Linked DNA regions of Homo sapiens. The protein of the gene in region 3 interacts with the protein of the main gene of each other region in a pairwise test. Each region holds a gene or a part of one and is shown on either strand. Other genes may lie near its edges.

Region 1 (3,751 bases), on a different chromosome or scaffold from region 3:
AGGCCTTTTCTCTTTTGGACATTCATTCCTCAGTTGTCCCAAGTTGTCAGTTATGAGACAACTAGTGGTCTCCCTGTTAACTATTTAATGGGACACTTGAGGCCAGGGAGTATTTTACTGGCCTACACTCAATTCAGAAGCCTGTTCCCTTTTATTTTTTTTCTTTGAGACAAGGTCTTGCTCTTTCGCCCAGGCTGGAGTGCAGTGGTGTGATCACAGCTCACTATAGCCTTGACCTCCCGGGCTCATGTGATCCTCCCACCTCAATCTCCCAAGTAGCTGGGACTACAAGTACACACCACCATGCCTGGCTAATTTTTTAAATTTTTTTGTAGAGACGGGGTCTCCTGACATTCCCCAGGCTAGTCTCAAACTCCTGGGCTCAAGTGATCCGCCCACCTCAGCCTCCCAAATTGCCAGGATTACAAGCGTGAGTCACTGCACCTGGCCTCAGTTTCCTTGTTGATCAGTGAGCCCTAGACAGGATGAGGAGCCAGCTGTGCCTCAGGCAGGGCCTGCTCACCGGTGTGAATAGTAGAACAAGACTTCCTCGATCAGCGTGAAGATGGCCAGCTCCAGGAGGAACCAGTGGAAGGTGGGTAGCTCACGGCGGCAGGGGTCTCTCCACCATTTGAGGAAGGGATAGAGGAAGACCACCATGGGGAAAGATATCATGCACTGGTTGAAAAGAACTGTGCGGATAGACTGGCGCAGTTTCACAGGATCCACCTGCCCAAGGGAAGGGAGGAGGGAGATGGATAAGAGTGTGAGAAGTAGGCTCCACCGTGACCTGCTTACAGGAGGCCCTCACTCTGGTTGGATTCTGGGAGAGATGTCGGGGGACAGCCAGTAGCTCCTGACTGCCACCCAGCTCTGGGCCTGGAAACGTTGCAGAATAAGGCCCTGGCTGCTAGGCAGGTGAGTAATACCCCTGTCCTTGGAAACTTCAGCAGCCTTCAGTCTGTGTCGGAACCTGCCTTCTTCCTGGTTCTGCACATTATCACCACTGCCCTCCCCATTTCTCTGGCCAGGCCCCATGTATTTACAGGTAACTTGGGTAGCCTCCATGGTGCTTGGAGAAGGCTGTGACTTTCTGAGTGATACCCCATTTCAGCCATTTAGCCCCTCTTCATCAGAGAACCTTGTTCATGATTGGATGCAGAGATCAAGATCATCTGCCTCCTCAAGTGGTCCAGCCTCCCTGCAGTAGGCCCAGAGCAAAGAAGCAGGTAAGCCAAGGAACTGCTTATCCAGCTTCTTGACCAACTTGCTGGTTTTCACAGTGATGCTGTGAAGATGGGGGCCTGCCCAAGCATTTCCACCAGGGTCCACTGTACAGAGCTGGTCCCAAGTGTCCAAAGTCCATTTGGCCTCAATACTGCAGCCAATATTTCCCCCAGAATCAGCAACCCTTTGACCCTTCCCTTTGTCAGAGCACTGGGGCTCCAGGCAACAGTCCTGTGACCATAGATTACTTCCTGGATCCTGATGAACTTGTTTGGTTAGAAGGGATTTCTCCAAGTTCCCTCTGTGAGCTGGAGGGATTTCTGCCCCAAAGCGCGACAGGTTCAGAATGGTCCCCAGCTTGAGGCCTGCCTCTTCCTCCAGCCTTTCCAGGCACTGCATGCATTAACTGATTTCAGAATTCACTCTTTGTTTACTTCCATCCCATTGCGAGGCCAGGTCTCGCCAGCCTGTTGTGAGAGGACATGTTAGGTGAGGCCATTACACCTTCTGGAAACCTTGACCAAGAGGCGGGGTATCACATCTATCTATTCATTTATTTATTTAACTGATATTTATTGAGTACCCACTATGTAGCACTCAGTGTACTGGGTGTTGAAAATAAAGCATGAGCAAAACAAAGATTCCTGCCCCCATGGAATTTATGTTCCAGTGAGAAAGGTAGACTAGACACAACAAATATAAAAACATATATATCAGGCTGGGCACGGTGGCTCACACCTGTAATCCCAGCACTTTGGGAGGTGGAGGTGGGAGGATCACTTGAGGCCAGGAATTTGAGAGCAGCCTTGGCAACATCACGAAACCCCATCTAATTTTTTTTAAAAAGCTGGATGTGGTGGTGTGCACCTGTAGTCCCAGCTATTCAGAAGCCTGGGGTGGAAGGATCATGTGAGTCCAGGAGTTTAAGGCACACCAGCCTGCGTGAGAGAGTGAGACCCAATCTTGTTAAAAAAAAAAAAAAAAAAAAAAAGGGCCAGTCGCTGTGGCTTACGCCTGTAATCCCAGCACTTTGGGAAGCCAAGGTGGGCAGGTTATGAGGTCAGGAGATTGAGACCATCCTGGCTAACATGGTGAAACCTCGTCTCTACGAAAAATACAAAAACTTAGCTAGGCGTGGTGGCATGCACTTGTAGTCCCAGCTACTCGGGAGGCTGAGGCAGGAGAATCACTTGAATCCGGGAGGCGGAGGTTGTAGTGAGCCACCGAGATCATGCCACTGCACTCTAGCCTCGGTGACAGAGCAAGACTCCATCAAAAAAAAAGGCAGGCCGGTGCTGTGGCTCATGCCTGTAATCCCAGCACTTTGGGAGGCCAAGGCAGGCAGATCACGAGGTCAGGAGTTTGAGACCAGCCTGACCAATACGGTGAAACCCTGTCTCTACTAAAAATACAAAAATTAGCCAGGCATGGTAGTGTGCGCCTGTAATCCCAGCTACTCAGGAGGCTGAGGCAGGAGAATCACTTGAACCCGGGAGGTTGCAGTGAGCCGAGATTGCTCCATTGCACTCCAGCCTGGGTGACAGAGTGAGACTCCGTCTCAAAAAAAAAAAAAAAAAAGCAGTAATATAGACAAGAGAAGATGGTGAATTAGACCAGGGTAATAGTGATGGAAGTGGTGAGAAGTGGTAAGAAGTGACTGGATTCTGAATTTATTTCAGAAATAGAGTTAATAGGGTTCCTGGATAGATTGGATGTGGAGTATGAAGGAAAGAGAGTAGTCAAGAATGACTCCAAGGTTTTTGGCCTGAGAAACTGGAAGATTGGAATTGCCATCCACTCAGATTGGGGAGGTTGTGGGTAGTAAGTAAAGGCTTTGGCAGGACGATCAGAAATGCTCTTTTGGACATCATGAATTGGCAATTTCTATTAGTATCCACGTGGAGATGTCAAGGAGGGAGTTGGATATTTCAGCTTGGAATTCAGTAGAGAGTTCTGGGCTAGAGAGATAAATGTGTGAGCTGTCGGCCTATGGATGGTATTTAAAGTCATGGCACTGAAGAGATAACTGGGGGAATGAATATAGAGAAGAGGACCAAGGCCAGAGCCCATGGGACATTCAGCATGAAGAGGTTGGGGAGAAGAGAAGGAATCAGGAAAGGGACAGTGAAAAAGTGAACAATCAGATGTGATGGGGAGCCGGGCGCGGTGGCTCATGCCTGTAATCCCAGCAGTTTGTGAGGCCGAGGTGGATGGATCACCTGAGGTCAGGAGTTCAAGACCAGCCTGGGCATCTTGGTGAAACCCCGTCTCTACTAAAAATACAAAAAATTAGCTGGGCATGGTGGCAGGTGCCTGTAATCCCAACTACTGGGGAGGCTGAGGCAGGAGAATCGCTTGAACCCGGGAGACAGAGGTTGCAGTGAGCCAAGATTGCGCCATTGTACTCCAGCCTGAGCAACAGAGCAAGACTGTCTCTAAAAAAAAAAAAAAAAAAAGAAAAGAAAATATTGAGGGGCTACCTAGAGAGCAGGGTGTCCTGGAAGCCAAGTGAAAAAAATATTTC
Region 2 (3,751 bases), on a different chromosome or scaffold from region 3:
CAGTCTTATCTGGGTTGAATCCTGGCTCTATGTCTTCTGAGCTATATGACCAGGGCCCCCTCATCTGAAAGCCAGTGATAATATCTAGCCTGCAAAATTGTCGAGGCAATTTAAAGCAATATATGTGAAGTGCCTGGCACACAGGAAGAACTCAGGAGATGGTAGCTGGTAGCAAGGCTGTAGATCTAAGCCTGGTCCCCTCAAAACACCTTTGTGATTGTCAGGCATCATATGGATGATCAAACAAGTTCGGGGAACTCATTTTCCCATGGTCCCTAAGTAGTCGAAGTGGGGTACCTCCAGGTGCAAGGGCATATGCCTAGGGCTTAAAGGCAGTGACTGCGCAGTCAGACAAGCCTTGCATCAAATCATAATTCTGGCAATCGCTGTGTGACCTAAGGCAAGTTACTTCACCTCTCTGTGCCTCTGTTTCCTCATCTATAAAACAGATGTACTGTTTCTGTCTCCTCTACCACCTCTTAAATCAACAATTGTAACGTGCAAATCTGAGACCCAATCATTTCTATTCCCCACCTTCTCAACGGGCACACCATGTTGAAGACTTTCAGAAGACAGCTTTGAAGGGAGTATCATTTTTCTAACTTTTTTTGTGCTTCTACTTTCAAGATTTCCATGTCATTAGATGCAAGTCAATCAAATGATCATACATTTTCCTACAAATGCATTGTAAACAAAATAAAAATTTTATCCCAAAGGGAAAATGAAAAAGAAAATTCAACAACTCTTTACCCCTGTAACTTCCTTTATTTTTCTCCATAGCACTGACAATATATATAGATTTCAATGTTGGGCTTGTTTTCTGCCCGGACCAGGATGTAAGCTCCATGAAGACAGTCTCAATTTTGTTCACTACCGCATCATCAGTTCCTAGAACAGAGCCTGGCACCTCTGCAGAATGTTAAATGGCTCTTCGTGAATCAACTCCAGGTGGGTTGCCCACATGAAAAACATTTCTGCATCTTTTGCAAAAGTGGCTTGGCTAGTACCATCCACTGTTTTCCAGTGTTCCTTTATGTGACATAAATCTTACTAGAACTCAGTACTAGGACAAAGTGTGTGTGTGTGTGTGTGTGTGTGTGTGTTTCCTGAGCTCACATATTTTCCACCAGCTGGGTTCGCTTCTATTGTCAGGAAGCTTGGAGCATAATTCACGTTCAATTACAGTGTTTCCCTTAATCCCTTTTTCTGATGGGGACATAGGATATAAATAAGTGTAAGAAGATTCTGTTGGTACATGTTTAAGACCCTATTTTTAACCACAGACTGCATTTATTCTACTAAGATGCTTCTCAAACTTGAATGTGCCAGAGAATCACCCGCGGATCTAGTTGAAATGCAGAATCAGACTCAGTAGGTCGGGGGCGGGGCGTGAGATGCTGCAGTTCTTACAAGCTCCCAGGTGATGCCTATGCGGCTGGGCCCTGGACCACATTTTGAGTAGCAGAGGGTCTAAGAAACGTGCTTCCTTGATTCAGCGGGATTTCTCTCTCCTGCTCCTTGGCAAAACATGACCAAAGTCTCAAAAACTGAAGCGGACGGCAGAAGCACCTAGAGAGCTGGTTAGACCTACGCCTCGCTGACCCCCCCCCCCCCCCCCCACAGCCCATGCCCGCTGTGATCCCGATGAAAGGGGCTAGGAATCCACCTAGGAAGTTCCCCAGGTGCTTCTGCTGTCGGTGGCCTCGCAGCAAATTTCGAAAATGACTGCTCTCTTCAAGGTTTTCTCAAAGGTAAACTCTTGGGGACAGCTGTTGTCACCAGTGGTACACCTGCTCGTTCAGGATTTTAGGGGGCCCATCCCGCTGTTTCCAGCCCAGCGTCAGGAGGGGACCCACCCCTCCTCTCCGGCTACTCCGACCGCGGCGGAGTCAACCCCCACGGGCCCGGGGCTCGGACCCCCGCCGCTCCGCCTCGCACAGCCGGGCCGGCCGGTGGCAGCCACCGCAGGCCCGAGAGGCGGGGACCGTGCCGCTCATGCGCAGAGCGACCCCTGGGCCCACAAGGCGGGGTCCCCGCGCGGTCCCCGCGCGCCCCCCGCCCGCCTTACCTCGCTGGACCAGGGTGGCCAAGGAGAAAGCGAGGCAGACAAGGAACGCCGAGCGCCAGGCCACCATGGCTGGGAGCAGGCGGAGGGCCCCGGAGGAGCACAGTTAGCGCGAGAGCGCCCGAAGGGGAGGCCGAGGAGGAGCGGGAGGAGGAGCCCCGCCGCCTCTGCAGGGTCCCGCCCAAAGCCCGCGCGCGCGCGCGGCGCGGCCCCGGGAAGATGGAGGTCGGGCGCGCTAGAGAGCCGGCGCCTGAGGGCGCCTGGGCTGGGGTTAGGCCGGGGGGCGGGGCGAGGCTGCAGTATCGGGGGCGGGGCCGCGTTCTGGAGGCGGGGCTCCGGGCGAGGGGCGTGGCCTGCGGGCACCCGGTGGGTGGGGAGGCCTGGGTTGGGTTGGGCTGGGTCCAGCGGCAGCGCGCGGTCCGCAGACCCTGTCCCACCTCGGTCCTCGAGACCGAAGTCTCGGAGGTGGCCCCGCGGACCTGGAGCAGTGAGTCACCAGTGCCGGGGAGCGGGAGGCGGCAGCGCCGGTGGGCGCCGATTTCCTCCCGGGTGACCTTGAGAAGGGCTCTTCCCCTTCTGGCCTTGGTGTTCTCCCGGTGAAGGGTTGTTCCCTTGGGGCCCCTCCAGACACCGTCCAGCACGGAGCCCCGCACTCTGTCCCCACCCGCTGTTCCCTGCAGGAGTGAAACCCTGGCCGGAGACTGAAGAAAAGGACCGTTTTCGTGACTGGCTGCGGTCAACAAGCAGTGACACGTCTCGAGAAAACGAGGCCGGGGGCGCCCGGGTGGGCGACAGGGGAGGATGGGGGCGTCCCGGAGCCGAAGCGCCGCGGGCTCGGGAGACTGGGGGTAGGGACTGGGTCAGCTCTCCCGAGGCTTTGATGAATGCGCTGAAAGTGCAAGTTCATATCTGCAGAGTCGATCTCAAAAACGTGCTTAATGACCGACAAACGCGCTGCAGTCCTTTCCCATGAACCCCCGCAAACGGAGTCCGTCTCCCAGACCCGAAGAAATCAGATTCCGATACGATACTGTGCCGACCAGCAAAATGCCCGCTGCAGCAGTTGATGGGAACGCTCCCTAGAAGAGCCCCAGCTGCAACCGGCTCTCGAAGACAAAGAGGAAGCGCTACTGCTCTCCGGAGTGGTAGCGTGAGCCTGTCCCTGCCATTATGCGGCACCGGCTGCCCAGGGCCACATCCTCCTTAGAGGGCGGCTACTACCACCTCCCCTCAATATCCATTCGGCAGCTTTCCTGTGCCCCCAACCCAGCCCTCGCTGCCATAGGCACCCCCCTCAGTGGCTCCCACCAACCCCTAAGGAACAGTGGGGTGTGGGGTCTCCCTGAGATGGAGCCGAAATCTCCCGTGTGGCTTACATCCATTGCCCTGAATCTTAGGGCTGCAGAAACAAAACAGCATATGAGGAGTGGATCTTCCCAGGCTCAGGGCATTAATTACTCTATGAATGGAACATTATTCCATTCTAGCTGTAGAATTAACAGAAATAGCTGGTAGTTATTGAACACACACTATACACATGGCATATTCCAGGCATTTTACCCTTAATTTTTATTCCTCACAATGCCTTATGTATCATCACCTATTAACGAGGGAAAAGCAGCAAAATGGAGGTTCCTTGAGGTTGGGGAGTTAGCCAGGTCTAGTCTCATGTGTCAAAGGGGGAGG
Region 3 (3,751 bases):
AACCTTCATAATTTGTTATGAAAATTAATAATGTACCCCCCAAAATACTGTACCCAATTTGTAGTACATTATTAAGGCAGCCCTAGGAACCTAATATAACATATAGCAAACACTCAAGAAATTGTTATTTTATTAGTCTACTCAGGCTACTTACGACTCCCCTTTGCAGAAGTTTATGAGGACCAAGCCCAAGAATTTCTGGTTAGCCGGAAATGGAGGTTGAGTCTGTGGATGTCAGGTAGTGTGCTTCCTATCCATGAAAATCCAAAACAGGGTATGAAAGTGGAGTGTGTCTAACTCAAAACCCATGATTAGGAAGCACAGTGGGAAAAGAGCTGGCGAGGTAAAGCTCAATACCAAGAGCAAGAGTCAGGAGTCAGATCTTAAGACAAAACAAAGAGTCAGAAATCCAAAAGTAACTAGTTAGAACAGGAGGCACATGAGGATCATTGGTAAATGTTACAATGATTGCTTAAAAAAGAAATAAGTTAGCTTAGCTGGGCTCATTGGGCTGGCCAGATTATGGGTGTGTTGCGTATGAATGTGTTGGACTCACCTCTGTATCTATAGAGGTGCTGTTTAATATGGTAGCCACCAATCATGCATGGCTGCTTAAAATGAAATTAAGTAAATTTTAAAATCTGGTTCTTCAGTAGCACTAGCTGCATTTAAAGTGCTCAATAGCTACATTTTACTGTATATTACAGAATATTGCCCTCGCAGCAGAGAGTTCTATTAATAGCTCAGGGTCTTCCATGGCCACGATGCCAAAGTACAAGCAGAGATCTAAATTCTGAGTTCACCCTACATTTTCAAATCATCCTAGGTTTACAAAACTGCTTTGACAAATGGTATCAGAAAGGGTCAAGTACATGTAAAACTTTACACAGACAAATAATGGGTGCTTAGCTACAGGTCCATGTTTTCCAAGTGTAGCGCTGTTCAAGCACCAGCAAAAACATTCTCAGATCACGTTGTCACAAACTCTCTTTACTGCTGTTTATTGCCTCATCTCCTGAATGTTAAAGGGAAGCAAGTCAAAACACCTGCGATGATCAAGTGTTTGTTTAGTATGAAATTAGGACTTCCTGCCATTCTAAACTTGAAAAGCCGCAGTCCACAGTTATCAGTCTATAAGCTGTGATATGTGTCTAGCAGCCCTTTCAGTGAAGGCTGGCCACCCTTGCTCAGCTCTCCAATTTCCTCTACATGGATGTTCTCAACCAGTGTGAAAATGTGGAATTGTGGCTATTTGTTCACATGATTTGCACAAAATATTCAGCCGGAACCTCCTCCAGCTGATAGAAGGAATAACACAGAGGAGAAGAATTGAAGTTGCAGAGTGTGGGGGTTGTGGGGGTGGGTTAGGGAGGGACTGTAAAAATGAGTCAAAGTAAAAACCCTTATCAATACCTAGATGATGGGTTGATAGGTGCAGCAAACCATGACGGCACACGTTGACCTATGTAACAAACCTACACATCCTGCACATGTACCCCAGAACTTATTAAAATTAAAATTAAAATTTAAAAAAGCATACAGTCAAATGTGTTATATACCAAATTTAGAGACCTCCAAGTTGTTTATGCTACTTGGTTAAGTTATTTATGTCTGTTTTAGTGCATACATGTTATTTGAAATCCCTATAATTATGAGTTGAGAAGGCTGGAATTTGCACTAGACTTCTTCTCTCCCTTTCTTAATCAGAGTGGATTCATTTGTCTATTGTGAAATTATTTAAGGAAGCACACGTGAACCACATTTAATAAATGGCAGGCAAGGCTCAGGCACATGTTTCAGCACGTGTTTGCTTTCCTCCTGTTACAACAGTCAACTGAGCAATAAAGAATGAATACACACACACACACACACACACACACACACACCCCTTATCATGACCTTGGCTACTGCCTATACAAGAGTAAGCAGTTATTCAGTGAAGGAACCAGCGCAAGAAAGGAGAAAAAGTAAACTTTCATCTTCTCCTCTTCCTTCTCCTCCTCCTTTTTTGCATTATTGTTGATTGAGCGAGCAAGATATTCAATTGGACCAATGGCTGAATGGCTAAATGCTGTGTGTGAGCAGGAAAGCCTATATTCTATTCCTGAATCCTCTATAAGAAGTTCTTCAATCTCTATAACTCTCTTGGGTGCTCTGTGCCTCATTTTGCAATATGGCAGAAGCTTTACTCCTATCCTCTCTTCCAGGGATGCAGAGTAATTTAATGAATTGCGTTATGTCTGTCACCATACACAGAGTCCCTGAGGCTGGGGCAGTTGCTGAAGTGATACACGTGTTCCTGTTGTCCCAGAGGACTAGAGATAGCACCATTAATCTGTCTGTTATCTGAATTAATATTGAAAACACACATTCCCACATACACATTTGTTTTATCCTGTGCATCAGAAATGTGTCTCTAAGGACTTTCCAACAAGGCTTTGCTTCGTGTCTTCCACTTTTACCCTTGGTTTGACTTTGCAGCACCAGCCTGCTGTTATTGCTCACTCTATGAACCGTACCTGCTCGGTGCCATCCAAATGTCAGCCGCTTAGAGGGAGGCTTCGATGACAACCACAGGGAGAAGAGACTGAGCAGGAAACTGGTCAGGTCAATTAAGAGGTGGGCAGCATCTGTGACAACAGCAAGACTCCCAGCAATGTGCCCACCTAGAGAATGCAAAATAGTACACTGTGTTAAGGTCCCAGAATGCAGCTAGATTCACAGACATGCTAACCATCATGGGTGAAAATGCCACAGACTCACAAAACTTTAGAGGAAAAAGAGATCTTAAAGTTGATTTAATTCACCCCTTCTGCGACTCAGAGAGGGGATATGATTTGAACATGTAGAAATCAATTTCAAAGGAGAAGCCATTCCTGGGGTAGAAAAGACATAGAGACTAGAAAGTGTGGGGCAGGCACATCTGGAGAACACCTTAATTAGACTGGGTATAAGGATTCAAAAGAGGAGAATACAAGAGAATCAGGCTGAAGCAGTGCGGGTCAGATTCAAAGAGTCTCATAATCCAGACTGAGGACATGGACTTTTGTTTATAAACTAGATGTTGCGATCTGGCCCACAGATGTGTTTTTATTTGACTTATAATTTAATCAGCATCTTTACCCTTTCCTTTTTCTCTATTAATATATATTATCCACCTGAGCTTGAAATCCCTGTAAGAAATAACAGGGAGCAGAAAGGAGAAAGGGCAGGTACCTTCCAATGGGCGTCCTCAGTGCTACAATCCAATAAAGCATAGGGATGCAATGTAAGCCATGAGAGTCCTGCCTGGCTTTTCCCTTTATTTGATGTGCTCCCTCTACTTCCCTCTAATCCTCCTTTGAGAAAAGACCTCCAGCCTCCAAAATAGAAGTTAAAGAAAAACCTTGCCCTTTCCTTCCCAGACATGGTTTGTTGTTTGAGAGCAATAACCTTTATTGCTCTTACTACATCTTCCCAGCAAAGGGCTTTTGCTGACTGATTAGTTCTCCCTACAGCTGTTTATTGCCTTGTGTACTACAAAATAGCAGAGACTGTCAGCCATCAGCCCCGCCATCATCAGACTCACCTTGTCTCGCCTAATTTTTAAAAATTACATAGATGGCTCATAATTGCAATAATCCCCACAGGCCATTGGCTCTAGCCGTAGTTAATAACTGGTTTGTCAAGGTTTAATGGGCTGAAGCAAAGTAATCTTCAAGCTTGTTACTGAACAGTCACTGCAAAAATCAGAATGATTCATTACCCAAAA

Evidence for each region.
Region 1: the proteins of SLC30A8 (region 3) and FAXDC2 interact in binary tests that used the Homo sapiens proteins (3 or more experiments, as listed by UniProt).
Region 2: the proteins of SLC30A8 (region 3) and CD99L2 interact in binary tests that used the Homo sapiens proteins (3 or more experiments, as listed by UniProt).

The regions. Positions count from the first base shown.
Region 1 is NC_000005.10:154,822,864-154,826,614, forward strand, and holds part of FAXDC2 (fatty acid hydroxylase domain-containing protein 2), read right to left. Parts: intron 730-3,751; coding exon 524-729; intron 1-523. UniProt on the Homo sapiens protein: Promotes megakaryocyte differentiation by enhancing ERK phosphorylation and up-regulating RUNX1 expression.
Region 2 is NC_000023.11:150,896,454-150,900,204, forward strand, and holds the start of CD99L2 (CD99 antigen-like protein 2 isoform 1 precursor), read right to left. Parts: upstream 2,216-3,751; 5' UTR 2,136-2,215; coding exon 2,069-2,135; intron 1-2,068. UniProt on the Homo sapiens protein: Plays a role in a late step of leukocyte extravasation helping cells to overcome the endothelial basement membrane. Acts at the same site as, but independently of, PECAM1.
Region 3 is NC_000008.11:117,151,859-117,155,609, reverse strand, and holds part of SLC30A8 (proton-coupled zinc antiporter SLC30A8), read right to left. Parts: intron 2,667-3,751; coding exon 2,520-2,666; intron 1-2,519. UniProt on the Homo sapiens protein: Proton-coupled zinc ion antiporter mediating the entry of zinc into the lumen of pancreatic beta cell secretory granules, thereby regulating insulin secretion.